2 separate regions of the Homo sapiens genome follow, and region 1 is linked to region 2. A link means that fine-mapping ties the variant in region 2 to the expression of a gene that starts in the linked region. Tissue or cell type: pancreas. Region 2 holds a variant in brackets; the other region holds the start of a gene. All regions are shown on one strand. Distances are between the middles of the regions.

The links. PIP is the estimated chance that this variant, and not a neighbour inherited with it, causes the effect.
Region 1: it holds the start of RAP1GAP, and the variant in region 2 is fine-mapped to the expression of RAP1GAP in pancreas (GTEx, PIP 0.98).

The regions. Positions count from the first base shown.
Region 1 is chr1:21,665,098-21,673,178 of GRCh38, reverse strand. RAP1GAP (RAP1 GTPase activating protein) reads left to right here and starts at 3,822. Exons shown (of 25, transcript NM_002885.4): 1 at 3,822-3,925. RefSeq lists enhancers at 1,903-3,102, 6,621-7,121 and a silencer at 3,751-3,900.
Region 2 is chr1:21,611,100-21,619,199 of GRCh38, reverse strand. RAP1GAP (RAP1 GTPase activating protein) reads left to right here. Exons shown (of 25, transcript NM_002885.4): 5 at 128-175; 6 at 1,228-1,266; 7 at 1,709-1,894; 8 at 5,111-5,214; 9 at 5,494-5,572; 10 at 5,971-6,024; 11 at 7,091-7,174; 12 at 7,384-7,484; 13 at 7,619-7,748. Among named protein-coding and RNA genes, the nearest start is that of LINC02596, 29 kb to the right of the region's middle. RefSeq lists enhancers at 1-558, 7,429-8,100 and a silencer at 5,825-6,117. The variant C/G (reference allele first, on the strand shown) is at 3,314.

The DNA of each region.
Region 1 (8,081 bases), 54 kb before region 2:
AGGCTCCAAGTCATGCTAGACTGTGGAGTTCTGGAACTAGAGTATACTGTTTATTTCCTGTACTGGAAGCCAGAGTTAGGGCCAGGCTGGATTTTATGTCTGCACCTAAAACCATTCAGTCCCCCACAAATGAATCAACCTAATTAGTGCTAGACTGTTGTAGCTCCCTGAGAGCAGGGCTCTGGCCATCTTACCACTGTATTCCCACAGCGGCCCGCATGATACATCCTCAGTAAGGAAAAATGAATGACTACTTTGGAATCTGTTAGAAGTTTTCCCGTGGCCCCTTGGGGGAGAGCTCTTTTTACTACTTTGGTTTGACCAGTACTGTCCCTACCTTCAGGCTTTTCTTCTTTGTCCTCAAAACAGGGACTTCCTAACTATTCATGATCCAAAGTCCTCTAACCCCAGGGGTAGTCTCTGTCATGTCTGCTGCACCAGGTTGGCAGCCTCCCACCCAGACGGGGGCCGCTGGCCCTTCCCTGATGCGTGTGCCCTGGCGCCGACTGCCACTCTTCATCCTGCCTTGCTGTGGTTAGAGTGGAACTGTCCTCTGCTCCAAGCCGCCCCTGAAGCCCACCCTCCTTGCCGGCCTTTCCTAGACCTTACCTGTGGCTCTGTGGACAGCACACCTTGAGGACTTGCTGCTTTGGGGTTTTCTTCCCCTACTTGCTCTGGTGGGCAGTTCCTATCTCAGTTTTTCTCCCATTTGATCTGACTGGGAAGGAGTGGGCGGGCAGAGATGGGGAGTTATTTCCAAGAGGCATCATTCCCATTTTAGGACTGTTCCCCCCTCCCTCACCTGCAGTCTCATGCATTATTTGGAGTTTACCGTGGTGCCACCCATGTTTTCGTTCTCCAGCCTTTTTGGATGCCAGATTTTTAAAGCCAGCTTTCATTTCTCAGTGATAGGGAGCACAGAGATGGTGGCTGGGTCGCAATGTATTAAGTGTCTGAGACAAGGCTTGTGCCCAGAGGCAGCCATGCGTGAGTGGTCAGTCCTGAGTGGTTTGGATTGAAATAGGACAGGGAAAGCAAAGCTCCGGGGCCTTTGTCCAATCTTCCCCCTCAGTAGCTAGGCTGCATGCCAAGCTCTGTGCCCAGCCCCCTACGGCACGTGCTGCCTCCTCGCCAGGGGCCCTGACAGTCTCAGAATGGTGCCCCCCAGGACACATGGGAGATTATAAGCCTCTTGCATTGAGGGAGGTTTTCTGTAAAGGGGAAAATGCTGTAATTGAAAAGCTCCTTGATTATAAAGAAGAAATAGAGACGCCTGGCATAGAAGAGACTTCGTTCTTTGGTCTGCTCAGCCAGGGTCGGGGACATTCAGTACCCCCAGGCTAATAGGCTCTTGAGCTCTTAAGGACCTTGGAGTCTGCAGGTCCAGACTCCAGAAGGTTATGGGACCATGAAGAGGTCACACAGCTGTACCCCTTGGCTTGCTGCATTTCTGCATCTCCAGTGCCTCCATCTGCCCCCTCCCTCCAGCTCAGGTGGGACACCTTTGTCTCCACTCAGCACTCTGGGATGTACCATCAGCAATGCCTGGCCAGAATTGAGGGTCTCTGTCTTAAAGCGTGGAGGAGAAAGGGGCCCTTTTGGAACAGGAGTTAGGGAAGCAAGAAGCATGAAGATTGTGCTCAGAATTGAATTCAGGGAGCAATGCATAAAAAAGCGAGAGGATGGGTAGAGAGATGGTGCTTAAAAGGATCCTGGAATCCATGTACTTCTGAGATCTGTGAGCCCCGCCCCTGCTGAAGATGAGCCAGCCCCACCCAGTACATGCTGCCCTTGAAGGTCTATAGGCATTCTGCTGGCATTTCCTAAGTAGGATGTATTTGACCAAGCATCTCCCAGGACCAGAGCCCTGCAGGACATACCTGTCTAGGGCAGTTGCTATGCCCCACAGTCCCTTCACCATCATCCCCAGAAGCGCCTCGGCCAGCCTCATTCAACTTCTTGCCTTTTTATTACAGTGTTTGAGCCAACTATATAGTCCTGGTGTATTCCTAGGCAGGAGATCAAAGGGCCCCCCGGGTTGGGTGGTCCATGAGTGAGCATGTGATACCGCAGGAGTCTTCCTCCTGCCCTGACAACTTGCCTTGTACTACCAGTGCTGCTCAGGATGTCTGCAGCCACGAAGCTTCATTATAAATGCAGGAGCTCAGGCTCCAGGCCCACTGAATCTGAATCTGAGTCTACAGACCGCTCCTGCACTCTTAGAAGTTTGAGAAACCCCCCTGGGCTGGGGTCTCTTTCCCATATACAGCTAGGGAAGCTTGCTGGAGGGAGGACTGAAAAGAACAAGTGCCTGATCTACCTTCCCCTCTGCCCTTTCACAGGTGGGTGGATGCGTGGGAAGAGGGTGGGGCATTTCCTGCTATTCCCCCTTATTCACCTTTTCTCCACGGGGATTAGAGTCTTGACCGGAAAACATGGCTCTGGTCCCCAGCCCCTATGGGACTGAAAACCCGGAGGCTTGCATGTCTCAGATCCTCCAGAGGCTGATGTAAGAGTTGCTGAAGACCTCGGATCTTTCCTTTTGTGAAATGCAGCCCATGTGGCCGGGAAAATAGTGGGAGCTGGAAGTAACAGTTGTGGTTTTAAGCACACAGTAGATGCTCAAGAAATATATTGAGTACATGTCTTGGACTTTCCCCTCCCTAAATATTATCTGTCAAGTGGGCCTATTGGACTTGTTGACCTTGGAGGGCCCTGTCGGCTTGACCCACCAATTCGAAATGGTTGAGAAAGAGGTCTGTCTTTGTACCTTTTGCAGCCTGTTTTCCCAGTTCTTAGAACATTGGGGTGAGATCCAGAGATTTCAGAGATCCCCCTGGAACACGAGTGTTCTGTGACGAGTTCATGACCTTGGAGCCACCAACCATACCCCTCACCCGTTGTCCCCAGTTCTGGCCTTGCCGACCCACTGCGTGTTTCTTTGCTTCATGTGGGCTGTTCCCCGGGGAGGGAGCTCAGTGGAGAACAGAAAGAGGTGTGGGTGAGGGCTCCCCCTTGGTGGGGAGTGGGGCACAGGAGCCTCAGGCTCTGTTGACCATCAAAGAAGGGACTCGAGTGGGCAGGCCGCTCACTTGCTGTGGACCTTGGGCAAGTCTCTAACTCTCCCTGGGCCTTGGAAGTCAGGCCGAGGTGATCTCTGCCGCCCCCTCCCTGCCTGGGTTTTCACTCTTGTTCTGATCCCACTCTCTTCCGGGTGCCTCCCTTCCACTTCTCCGTAGCCTGTGGCTCCCCTCCCCACACCCGCCCTGGGCCCGGGTTAGGCTGGGGCGGGGGCGAGCTGCCCAGTCCAGAGACAAAGTCCAAGAGCCGCGAATGGGCTGGCGAGGGTCAACCGCGTGGCCTCTGCCAGGAAGCGCGCCGAGCGCCCGGGTGAGGAGGGCGTCAGCCAGGGCACAGCAGCTTTCTCGCCCAGCGAAGCCTGTGCGCCTTCCTCCCGCGCCTGCAGACAAGCGGAGCCCATGGGGGCCGTGGGCCCCACCTATCCCGACGTCTCCACTTGATCCAGAAGTTGTCCCAGTCCCCTTGGAGCATGAGCTGTTGCCTGGACAGCTGGGCTGTCGCCCAGGTTCTGCCACTGTCTAGCTGTGTAACCTTGAGCCAGTCCCTGCCCCTCTCTGGTCCTCAGTTTCCCCACCTGTAAAATGGGGGCACCGAGAACCCTCCTCCAGGACCTGCGGCGGGGCGGGGCGGCAGGGCGGGGGCCTCCCCGCCGCTCCCGCGCCCGCGGCTTGGGCTCCGCAGTGAGTGGGGAGCGGCGCCGGGGAAGGAGCGCTCCGCGGTCATGTGACGTCCCCCTCCCCGAACTGCGGCGGCGGCGAGCGCCGGCCGCATCTGAGCAGAGCTGCAGCGGCGGCCGCGGGCACCAGAGTGCCGAGCCCAGGACGCCCCCGGCCCAGGCCCTTGGGTGAGTGCGCCCCGCCAGGGCTGCGGCCCTGGAAAGGGGAAGGGGACAGAGGTGTCCAGACTCCCGTCGGCTCGCAGCGAAGACCCCGCGCGGGCGGGCGGGGACGGAGGGTGGGGGCGAACGCGTGGGGGACCCGGGTCTCCAGGGGCGAGGGGTGGGCGCAGCTGGGCTCGCGCAGCCCGGTCTTGACAGCAGCTGGAGAAGTGGGGGGAGGCCTGGACTGAGCCGGCTGAACCCCCAGCCTGTTGGACTTGGTCCAGGCCGCGGCCAGGGGGCTTTGGTCCCACCCCCCTGGGTGGGTGGGGAGTCCAGTTTTCCGCCCACCTCGAGGTGGGGGCGCCTGGGGTTTAGAGGAGGGACTGTGGGAAGTGGGCGCGTTTCCTCCATCCCTGGGGAGGGGCCCAAGCCCTAGCGCCCCCCAGAGGGTGGCGCTCCTGTCCTCAGAGGAGGGAAGTGGGGGCCTCAGATCAAGGACCCTGAGCGGGGAGGGCGGTGATGTCCTTGCATCCCCAGAGACAGGACGCATTCCCCTGTCCCTGACCCCCGCGGCAGAGCGGGGCACACGCGTCACGAAGTTGGGCGCCCCCTCGTCGCCTCCCCTGGCTCGGCAGGATCTGAGGACTCGGTGGGAATTCACGGGGCGGTTTCCGTGCCCTGCAGGGTTTGGTGCCAGCTGCGGGGCGCCTGGGCTTGGGGAAGAAACCTTGTGTACGCACACCTGCACACACACACAGTCTCCGGAGGTGAGCGGCCCCCTCCCTACCATAACAGACCCCAGCCTGTGCATGCCCTCGGAGTCCTTGTTGGGGTCATAGCACAGGCCCGGTGGTGGGGTCAGGAAGAACATCCACTGTTCTCAGGGCTCATTGGCCTCTGTCCCCGGGCTCCATTCCCCTCCCTGCCAAGTCAGAGGTCAGGCCCCTGGGGCGGCAGGCAGGAAGGACACTGAGGGAAGGGGCACTGAGGCAGGAGGGGCACTGAGGGAAGCTGGCCAGGTGGAAGTAGGAGAGAAAGGCAATGGGGGTGAGATGGTACCACTTCCTCCCCATATGAGGCTCTCAGGAGGCTCCTGGCCCCCCCTGCACAGGTAGTGGTCCCTCCTTCCTGAGGGTGTTTGGGGGAAAACGCTATGGTTGGGGCACTGGGGAAGGTTGCCTCGCAGATGAAACAGAACATTGGCCAAAGGTGTCCCTGAATGGGCTTCTGGACTGGCACAGGGCCCTGAGGGCTGTGGCTGAGTGGGGAGGCAGTGATCAGGTCCAGCTGGCCATGGGGGCCCCCCATTCCCTTCTCCATGACCTCAGCCTCACTCTGAGAGCCCCCAGCAGCTGGAAGGTCTGGTAAGGGGTGCGTGTTCCTTGATGGCCTTGGGAAGGGTTCCAGGGTAATGATTAATCCTCAGGTGGCACGAGCAATTTCCCCCTTCACAGCAATATTTCAGGGCAGGCGCTGAAGCCTCCATTGCACAGGTGAGGAAACTGAGGCTCGGAGAGGCTAAATGAACTGCCTGAGGTCACCTAGTCACCTTCAGCAAGGTCTAGAATCGTGGTACTCTGACTCTTGATGGGAGAAGATCTCCACAGCGGTGGAGAGGAGGAAGGGTGAACGCCGTGGTGGAGTGGTCCATGTGGACCTGCTCCCCTTTGCTGCCAGGAGGTGAGGGTGCCTGTGGCTGGAAGCTGGGTCAGGTTGAGGAGAGGGTCCAGAGTCCTAGGCTTGCCTTGCCACCCCTTCCCATGGAGGGAGGGTTGTCCCGTGGAGCACCATAATGGTGCTTTCACCCTGGGACCTTCCCAGCTTGCTTGGGCAAAGCCCTCTCCTCTTCTCTTCTTCCCAAGGTGCCTGCCTGGCAGGGGTCTCAGGAGGCCCCTCTCCTGGCTCTAACTACCTTCCACCCTTAGGAGACAAGAAGGATTCTTCCTTTGGCCTCTTGGAGGGCAGCAGGGAGAGAGGTCTCTGCCACTTAGGCCTCAGGCTCCCACAGCAGGGCCTCCACCTCCCTCTCACCTGGCCCTGCCCCTGCCCTGCTGTCAAATTCTGGGGCCAAGAGGCCCTTTGAGGACTCCTCGGGCAGATCTGTCCTCCATGCTGCCATCTGTCTACGGAGGCCTTTGTCCTGGCTGTCAGAGGCTGCTGAGCAGCCGCATGTGCTGTGCAAACAACCGAGACCTGAGCACGGCCAGACACAAACGCAAATACAGTTAGACTGACAGATACCCTGAGACCCAGACACAGGAACACACGGGCACACCCAGGCCAAGACCCCTGCCCCCGACTCTGCCTGACACACAAGCACTGAGAGTCACACCATCCAGATGCTGGCACGTGTGTACACACAGAGAGACGGAGGTTGTCAGCAAGGAGAAGAGCCTTTTCAGAAGCCCTCGTCTTCTGTCGTCTGCCTCCATTATCTCCTCCAGGGTGCACACATGGTACACGCGCATGCAGGAAGAACACGAGGATGCCCTACGCCCTTAAAAATGAACCTGGCAGACACGCACATGCACCCACCCACACCCAGGCCATCATGGGTGCACACACGCATGAATTACATCAGCTTCCTGCGTGTGGGATGTTAATGCTTCATCACCCGGGGAGGGGAGTGGAGGCCCCCGACCGTCCCCAGCAAAGCCTCCCCTTCCTCCCTCTTTTCTGATTCATGTGGACCCAGCTTGACTGGCCCCAAGAATCCTGGGAAACTGCCTGGTGCTTCCCACTCAGTGGACCCTCCTCTCCTGCCTCCCCTCTGTGTACATACCCAGCGGGTTGCCACGGGAGCCTCTCCCCAGGCTGCTCCTTTGCTGTCTCTGAAGGTGTTGTTCTGCAGGTCCTTCCCAAGACAGGACAGGACCCAGTGCAGGCTCCAAGCGGCTCTGGGGTTCCCTTTCCTTTCCACTTTTGCTAGAGGCATTACCAGGCCCCAGTTTCTGCTTTGTCCTCCCAGCAAGGCTGGGGGCCAGCTGGTGTGAAGGGAAGGGAGCCCTCAGCACTCTCTGCTCACCTCCTTGCATGCCAGGACCTCTGCCAGGCTGGCCCTGGCACCCTGTGCCTCTGAGAGACTGGCGCTGTGGAGAGGTGCTTCTGTGGGCTTAGGTGAGGCCTCCAGGGCAGACATGCTAGATGGGGAGGGGCTCCCAGCTCCACCATGCTCCCTCGGCACTCACACCAAGCCTGCCAGAGTGCTGATTCCCTGTCCAAGCCTGGCCCTGCCTCTTGCTGGCTGTGTGGCCCGGACAAGTCATTTTCCCTCTCTGGGCCCAGCTCCAGCTCTGGGAGGCAGCTCAGCCTGGCTGGGGGATGAGGAAAGTCAGAGGTGTGAGGTGGCAGCCCTGTGCCAATAAGGAAAGGAAGTTGGGCTCTGGTGGCAGTGTGGGCCCATGGGGCCCCAGGCTGATGACTTCCTGCAGAGTGCAGCCTCTGGATCCACACTAGGGCCAAGCAGGGGTCGCCAGTCTCAGGGCTTCTTGGGGCGGCCACCCTGGGGTCAGCCCAGGAGGAGGGTACCCAAGGGCAGTGGGCTGCAGCTATGTTGCTCACATTTGTGGACATTTTATGCCTCAAAATGTGCTCTATATTTAGGGCTAAAGACCAGCACTGTCAGGCAGGTGGTGACTCAGAGAGGAAGAAGGGAAAAGAGGCAGAGGAGTGCTGGTGGGGAGACACCCCAAAACAGAAAGGTCCCACTGGGATTCCAGCCTTTCCTACTGCAAGAAAGGAAGCAAAACATGATACTCCTGCTTTGCACCAGCACAATGGGAGCAGCCTCGTGTGCCTACTCACTAAGCATTTAATGAGCATGTAGTGGATCCCAGGGACTGTGACAGGCACTGGGGCACAGAGATGAGCTGGGTCCTGTGGTCCCTGCCACAGCCCGGTGCTTTGTGTCAGATGAGGAGGTGAGGCTCAAAGAGAGAAAGTGACTTGCCCACTCTACAGGTTAATACCTCTGCCAACCGAGGCCACCCTCCCTCGGACCCCCATTCGGAGGAAGCAGACCCAAGTTCGAATTCTGACATTGCCACTGAGCAGCCGTACAACTTTTGGTGAGTTCCTCTCTCCCTCTGAGTCTGTTTCTTGATCTAGGAAGTGGGAATCATAGCACTTGCCTGATGAGTATGTTTCAAGGGATAAGAAGGTGAATGCAAGCAAACACTGA
Region 2 (8,100 bases):
CTGCCCTGGGAGTACCCCTACCTTCGCGGGCCGCCTCCTAGGGCTTTCCCCTTGCACGCCTTGGGGAGGGGAGGCAGCGCCTGGCGGCAGGCCTGGGAGGGTGTAACAGTGCTGCCTTCTCTTACAGGGAAGCAGGATGGATGAACAACGCTGCTCCTTCCCGCCGCCCCTCAAAGTAGGTGGGCCTGGCAGTCTGCCTCCCTCTCTAGGGGGTGGAGGGGGTCCGGGAAGTGCTGCCACCACTGCCCATCAAGCAGGAAATCCATCCCCTTTCAGCAAGTAGTCTTACAGTGTGCCAGGTGCGGGGGTAGGGGGGGAGGCACAGCTTCTAGCAGGGTAGACCCAGCCCCTGCCCTCTAGGAGTTCTGTGATGGGGAGAACCCCTCTCTTGCTAGAGGGCTGGGGCCTCTATTCTAGCTCCTCCTCTCGGTCTTCACTGCTGCAGACTCCCCCTGCCTCTCCAGGCGTCCCCACCCCAAACTCAAAGCCCTCCTCTCTCAAAGACAGCTGCTGCCAAATGTTTTCCCTGAAACCAGTGATGACCAGCAGTTGCAGGAAGACTCCAACTCAGGCCCTAGGAGACTTATGAGCTCCTGCTCCATAAGCTGCTGTCTGGATGGGGAGGGAGTGATAGGGAGGCAGGCCTGGGTGCCCCCCAGCCACTGGTGAGGAGACTGACCGGAGGCAGGGGACTCAGCGAGATGAGGGGGAGGCTCTTGTTTTTGACCCACTTTTCTTAGCATATGGTTCTTGGTGAGAGATCCCAGAGACCCTAGAAGACCAGGCCTGGTGGAGTGGGCCCAGGGCTACAGGGTGAGGGTTAGAGGAGGGTGCATGGGCAGTAAGCCTGATGCTCTCTTTGGGGCAGAGGCCCTCACACCAGCAGCGTCGGTGCCACCTGGGAGCCTGTGAGGAATGTACATTCTCAGACCCCGCCCAGACCGCTGCATCCAAAGCTCTAGGGTGGGGTGCAGCAAGCCCTCCAGGCAGTCCAGCGGTTTCTTCTGGGGAGGCAGTGAGCCCTCCTTTCTCCAGGCAAGGAGAGCCCCAGAAGATGCCAGCACTCAGCACGCTAAGCCTGCCTCAGCCCCTGCCCATCTGTAAGAGGTGATGAGGCCAGGGCCCCATCCGCACTCTCAGCCCTGAGGCTGGCCAAGCAGAGGCCAGCTCTGGGGGCACTGGAGGATGGACAGATGGAGAGACCCTTGCCCTGTTTGTGTTTTGCAGACAGAGGAGGACTACATTCCATACCCGAGCGTGCACGAGGTACTCAGCTAGAACCCCGCGCCCACCCTTACTCAAGCCCAGGAGGCACTTACACAGGGCTTCTGGATACCAGGTCCTCCTCCTTAGGAGCCTGACCTGCAGGCCTTGCTGCGGGCTGGAGACTTAATTTGCAGGCCCAAGGCCTCAGAGCCCATTTGAACCCTTAGGCCTTCTGAGCCAAATGTTCCAGCCTCCTGGGCCAAGGTCATGCTCCAGCTCTACCTGCCCCCACACCCCCTGTTAGAGACTTGGGTCTCGGCGCTGTCTGGGTCTGGCTGAGGGAAAGGGCTGGAGCAGAACCCTGGGGCCCACACAGGCTCTGGCCTGTCCCCTCATACCCCTTAGCCACGACAGAAGCGGCTCCAGGTCTGAGTTGGGAGGGTGTCCTGGGGCGCCCAGTGGGGTACAGTGTGGGGTGGCTCTCAGCTGAGTCCCTCTTCAGGTCTTGGGGCGAGAAGGACCCTTCCCCCTCATCCTGCTGCCCCAGTTTGGGGGCTACTGGATTGAGGGCACCAACCACGAAATCACCAGCATCCCCGAGACAGAGCCACTGCAGTCGCCCACAACCAAGGTGAAGCTCGAGTGCAACCCCACAGCCCGCATCTACCGGAAGCACTTTCTCGGCAAGGTGGGTGGCCGGCTGGTGCAGCGGGGCTGGCTGGGGTGGGTCACAGTTCAGCCCCATTCGAGGTGGGCCTGGGAGGGAGCAGAACCCATGGGCCAGGGCTGGGTGACAGTCCTAGAGCCCTGAGTGAATGTGCTCCCACCACACACACTCCCAGTCCCCAGGGAACATGCATGGCAGAATCACTTGTTCATTCAACATTGATTGCAAAGGCAGCATTATGGCATGGTGGTTCATGGCAGAGACTCTACCAGGGCTTGAATCCTGGCTCTGCCACCCACTACACAGGACATCGGGTAAATCGCTTAACTTCTCTGTGCCTCATTTCCTAATCTGTGAAAATGGTGGTTGGTGGTAATGATACCCACCTCCTGAGGTTGCTGTGAGGCTTTAGTGAGCTGATATCTGTAAGGTCTTTACAGTGGTGTCTGGGACAAAGTAAGTGCTCAGTCAGGGGTGGCAAATAATGAGCACTAGCTGTGTGCCTGGCCCTGTTCTAGGCACCAGGTATACAGCAGCCAACACAATAGACCCAGGCCCTCCCTTTGGGCAGCTTGGAGTTAGGAGAACAGTAATGTCATGGGTTGATGCAGCCCCTGCCCCACCACCAGCACAGAGCAGGGACCCTGCCCAGCAACAACTTGTCAGAGTGTTGTGGGAGCCAAGGGGAGGTCCCATGCCGGGAATGTGTGTGTCAGGTTGCAGGCCGGGTGCTGTCTCTTCGTCAGCATAGAGCCAAAATGGGGAAGTGTGTCGTGGGCTCTGGAGCCTCGTGGCATGTGTGGGAATCTTGGCTCTTCCATTAACTGTTTGTGTGACCTTGGGCAAGTTATTTAACTTTCCTCGTCGGTGAAAACAGGGATAATAAAAGTACACGCAAAGCTTCTAGAACCACACCTGGCACATGGTAAATACTCAGTTAATGTTAGCTGTTTTCATGTCTTCATAATTACTTGGTGATATCAGGATTATTCTGTTTTTGCAGAAGAGGAAACCGAAGCTCAGATAGGTAAATGATTTAGTCAAGGTCACACAATGACTAAGCCTGGGAATTGAACCAGCTTTGGCTGACCTTCCATTAAGGTGCATGGGAGAGATCATGCTCCTAGTCATTGTATGTGTGTGTGTGTGTGTGTGTGTGTGTGTGTGTGTGTGTGTGTGTGTGTGTGTGTTGGGAAGAGGGGGTGACTCCTTGGGGGTTCGGAAGATGTGTGACCTCAGTCTGGGCCTGGCCATTGGCCTAACTCTGGGAGACACCGGTGCTAACCAATGGAGTTAGGGGAGGATCCACTGTGACTGGGACTAAACCAGCAAGCCCAGGTTCAGGAGCCTTTGCCTGGGAACAAACCCAGAACCCAGCATGGAATTCCACTTCCCAGCTGAGCCCTAGAGGTGGAGCGAGACCTGCATCCTAGGCACCTG[C/G]TGTCCAGAGGTTCCCAGCTGGGTCTGGCAGGTGGTAGGATCTGAGGGTACTGTATATGCCAAACACATGGTTGGTACTCAGAAAAGTTTGTTGAAAGAGTGACAAGTGACAGATGAAGGTAGGAACAGATGAAGGTAGTGGACCTCGAGTGCAGCAGGCTCTGAAGAAGTGCAGACTGGAGGGTCAGAAGAGGCAGCTGGGCGCCCTGGCTTATACCTGTAATCCCAGCACTTTGGGAGGCCGAGGTGGGCAGATCACTTGAGGTCAGAAGTTCAAGACCAGCCTGAGCAACATGGCAGAACCCCATCTCTAACAAAAATACAAAAATTAGCCAGGTGTGGTGCTGGGCGCCTGTAATCCCAGCTACTCAGGAGGCTGAGGCAGGAGAATCGCTTGAACCTGGGAGGTGGAGATTGCAGTGAGCTGAGATGGTGCCACTGTACTCCAGCCTGGGCGACAGAGCAAGACTCCATCTCAAAAAAAAAAGAAGAGGCTTCATGTCCAGGATCAGATTAGCAGTAATGAGGGAGAAGCCCCAGGGCTGGCAGAATGGCAGGGCCCCTTCCTGACTCCAGGTGGGGTAATGGGGGAAGCAGCCAGGTGCTCAGGCACTGGGCCCTATCCTGGCAGAGAGGGGAGGTTAGGATGACTTTGGGCGTTGACTTCCTGGGACCCTGAGCCCGCTCTCCCACTGTGTCCCGGGGGCTCCTCTGGGCTTGGGGGTGTCCAAGGAACCTCCCCACTCTCTGGACTTCCCTGCCAGGGGCCTCCTTATCAAGTGCCTGCCACTCCCTCTCTGCTGGATGATGTCAAGCATTTGGGGGTTTCTGCCACTCTGTGCCCAGGCAGAGCTGGGGGACTCTGCCCCAGGTCCATTGAGAATGCCCCTGAGCTGCGGATTCGTGGGGCACATTCACTGGTCCCTGCCTCTATCTGCTCCTGGCCTCTGAGCACAGGTGTTCATGTTTGAACAGGATTTACTTCTAGGATGATTCCTGGGGCGGGTGTGGCCGGGCAGCCAGCTCCACTCCCAGAACTTGGGCTAGGGCTGGGGCTGAGGTTGGCAGGAGGAGCCCGGGGCCAGGCTGGGTGGTGTCTCCCTGAACTTCCAGCCCTCGGCTTTGGGACTTCCCCACCCGGAGGTGCCAGCCCTGGGCTCCTCTCTGGGGGTGCCATCCCTGCCGCAGCCACCCCTGATACTCCCCAGGGTGTCTTCCCAACCCTGTGCCCTCTCCTCCAGGTGAGACAGGAGGGTGGAAACCTGCCTGGCCAGCCACCCTGTGTGTTGTGAGATGTTTCGCTTCCTGTTTCTCATGGGCCCTGGCTTCAGGGGCCACAGAGTCACAGGTTGGGCAATCAGCTTTTGCTCATTGAGCACCTGCTGGGTGCCCAGCCCTGAGAAGGACCAGGGCTGAAGACAGGCATGCAGGTCCGAATATGGTCCAGACTCGATGAGCACCCAGAGATCCAGCGTTACTACCCACCTTCACTGAACTGAGCCAAGCACTTCATCCCTTTCAGTCCTGGCTGCCACCAAAGTACAGGGTTCCCTCCTATTTGGCAGACTAGGAAAGTGAGGCACAGAGCGGCCAAGTGACCTCCTCAGGCTGCCCAGCTGGTCAGTGGCAGAGTGGGGCTTTGAGTGCAGGTCTGTCTGATGTGGGGTCTGCTATCAGCCGTGACACCTGCTATCGGCGAAGGACCTGCATCTGGGAGTGGGTTGGCTTTCTGGCCTTGTTTCCAAAAGCCCCATGCTCAGCCTCACCCACTCCCCTGGCCCCCACCTCCCACTGCAGGAGCATTTCAATTACTACTCACTGGACGCTGCCCTCGGCCACCTTGTCTTCTCACTCAAGTACGATGTCATCGGGGACCAAGAGCACCTGCGGCTGCTGCTCAGGTGAGGGTGGTGGGGGAGTCCTGAGATGGCAGGAAGGGCTGAGGTCTTACAATCTCAGAGCCCATCTCATTTGACCCACTCTCTTCATCAAGGCCCATAGAGGGGCAGGGATTTGCTTGAGGTTGCACAGCAAGTTAGTACCCGAGTCAGCCTGACACCCATCATCACCTCTGGTCCTCGCTGTGGTCCACCCCCTTCTGGCCTTACTTTGTGGGGGGTGGGGTTCCCATTTTCCTGTCCTGCTGCCCAGGCCTTCATCGTGTGACTTTCTCTTCTCAGGACCAAGTGCCGGACATACCATGATGTCATCCCCATCTCCTGCCTCACCGAGTTCCCTAATGTTGTCCAGATGGCAAAGGTGAGGTCTCCGCTCCGCTGAGCTTCCCGGGCTGGCTCCGCAGATGGGCACCTGTGGGGCTTCAGCTTGCCTTGGCGCGTCCCCTTCAGCTGTAGGCCCTAGCCCTGGCCTGCCGCCCTATCCTGAGGCTGTCTCTCACTTGTTCCCATCGTGTCTTGGGCTGCCACGTGTTCTCCTAGGCCCCCGTCCCCTGCCTGTGTGCTTTTGGTTTTCTCTATAGCACCTTCAGATCTCAGGGGACCTCCGTTCCCTGAGCAACAGTGAACCCCGAGTCCTGCTTTAGCCTTGGCCATTCCCAGCATGGCTCCTCCCCAGACCTTGACCAGGGAGGCCCAGGCAGCCCCATCCTCTCCTCCCTGGCCCCACACCTCACACCCCTCCCTTATCTCCTCCTGCAGTTGGTGTGTGAAGACGTCAATGTGGATCGGTTCTATCCTGTGCTCTACCCCAAGGTATGGCTGGATCTGGGCACAGCTCACTGAGGGTGGGTGAGTAACTGGAAGACTGAGCATTTATTAAGCACCTTCTGTGTGCCAGATACTTTCCCAAGGTTCTCTCATTTAATCCTCACAATAACCCTGTGAAGTCCACAATTTGCAGAAGAGGAGCCACCGAAAGGGCCTGTGCCTTCCCCCAGGGTGCACAGCAGATAGGAGGGCCTGCGTTTAAGCCTCGGTTTGTCTGCCTTAGAGGCTGGCCTCACATCTGGAACCTCTGTGATGTTTGGGGACCCTCCTGAGAGCAAGCTGTGCCATAGTCCTCCCCTGGAATGGGTGTCTTTTCTACCGGCCTTGCCTTTTTATCCCAGAGGAGACCTATAGAGAGAGAATAGCCCTGGCACTTCCTGCTCGGATGCTGGTAGCTGGGCTCTAGGCACTGTGACAGTGTGGGGATAGGGGCACGGGCTTCTGCCTTGGATGAGCCAGGGGCACCTCCTGGAAGAGGACAGACAGGTAAACCCTTGGGTCCCTGACTGAATTCTGGAGCAGTGTGAGGTGGTGTGGTCCAGGAAAGGTATCCTGAAGGGGCTTCAGAAATCAGGGCCCCCCTCCTGCTTATGGGAGAGGAAACTGAGGCCTAAGGTGAGGAGGAGAACTTGCTCAATGCCCACAGCAAATTGGTGGGACGTGTCCTGTTCTGGGAGGATGATGTGGGTTTACAGAGGAGCCGAGGAGTGAGTTGGGAGTTAGAGTGGAGTAGGGGTGGGCTTGGCATGGCAGGACTGGGGCTCACAGCAAAACTCAGGAGCGATGAACTTAAGCTTTGGAATCCAACAGACCTGGGGTCAAATCCCAAGCCTGCATGTGCTTGCAAGCCATTGACCCTAGGTGAGTCACTTAAGGTCTCTGAACCTGAGTTTCAGAGGGGACAGCTGGACTGTCTCCCTCCCAGGCTTGTTCTGAGAATCACATGACGTGACGTGTGTAGAGCGCCTGGCTCAGTGCTTGGCACGGGGGAAGAGCACGTCGAATGGCAGCTTGCACACGCAGCCTCTTCACCCGGCGTCCTCTCCTGCAGGCTTCCCGGCTCATCGTCACCTTTGACGAGCATGTCATCAGCAATAACTTCAAGTTTGGCGTCATTTATCAGAAGCTTGGGCAGGTGTGCTCACCTCCTCCCTGCCGCCCCTCCCCACCTGGCCCCATATCTGGAGCCTCACACCTTTTCCAGGGCAGCACACCGGCCAAGGGACTCAGGAGCCCAGGGGCTGCCAGAGGTCCTCCCTCCGGCCCTCTCTGGGTCCAAGTAGGGACAGAGGGCAGGGGCTTCTCAGGAACTCCAGCTCAATGACCTTGGCCCCTCATCCCCAGACCTCCGAGGAAGAACTCTTCAGCACCAATGAGGAAAGTCCCGCTTTCGTGGAGTTCCTTGAATTTCTTGGCCAGAAGGTCAAACTGCAGGACTTTAAGGGGTGAGTATTAGGGTGGGCTGAGCAGAGTGTAATCTGACTTGTGCTCCTGGGCAGGGAGGGAGCCCCTGTCCTGGCCCCATGGAGGCCTGGCCAGGGCTGGAGACTGAGGCGTGGCCTGGGGGGCCCCGGGGCAGGTTCCGAGGAGGCCTGGACGTGACCCACGGGCAGACGGGGACCGAATCTGTGTACTGCAACTTCCGCAACAAGGAGATCATGTTTCACGTGTCCACCAAGCTGCCATACACGGAAGGGGACGCCCAGCAGGTAGCCTGGGCACCCCCACCTGCCTCCTGTCTTCCACCTGTCCTCCCCCTCCACCTGTCTGTTCAGCCTCCATCACGCCAGGCTCAGCGCTGGGCCCTGGGATGGAGATGGAAATGATCAGCGCCCCCACTTGTGGGGTCTCGTTGGGTCAGGGGAGACAGAAAGCCTTGGTTTCTACAGTCAGAATGGCACCCACTTCCTAGGTGAGCATAAATGCGTGGGTGCATAGAGGGACTAGAACAGTGCCTAGTACATTGCAAGAGTTCAGCAGATCTGAGCTGGTGTTTTATGGGGAGTGGAGAGCATCATGGGGTCATGTGGGGACATGTAGTCTTGGCAGAGGTGGGAGTCA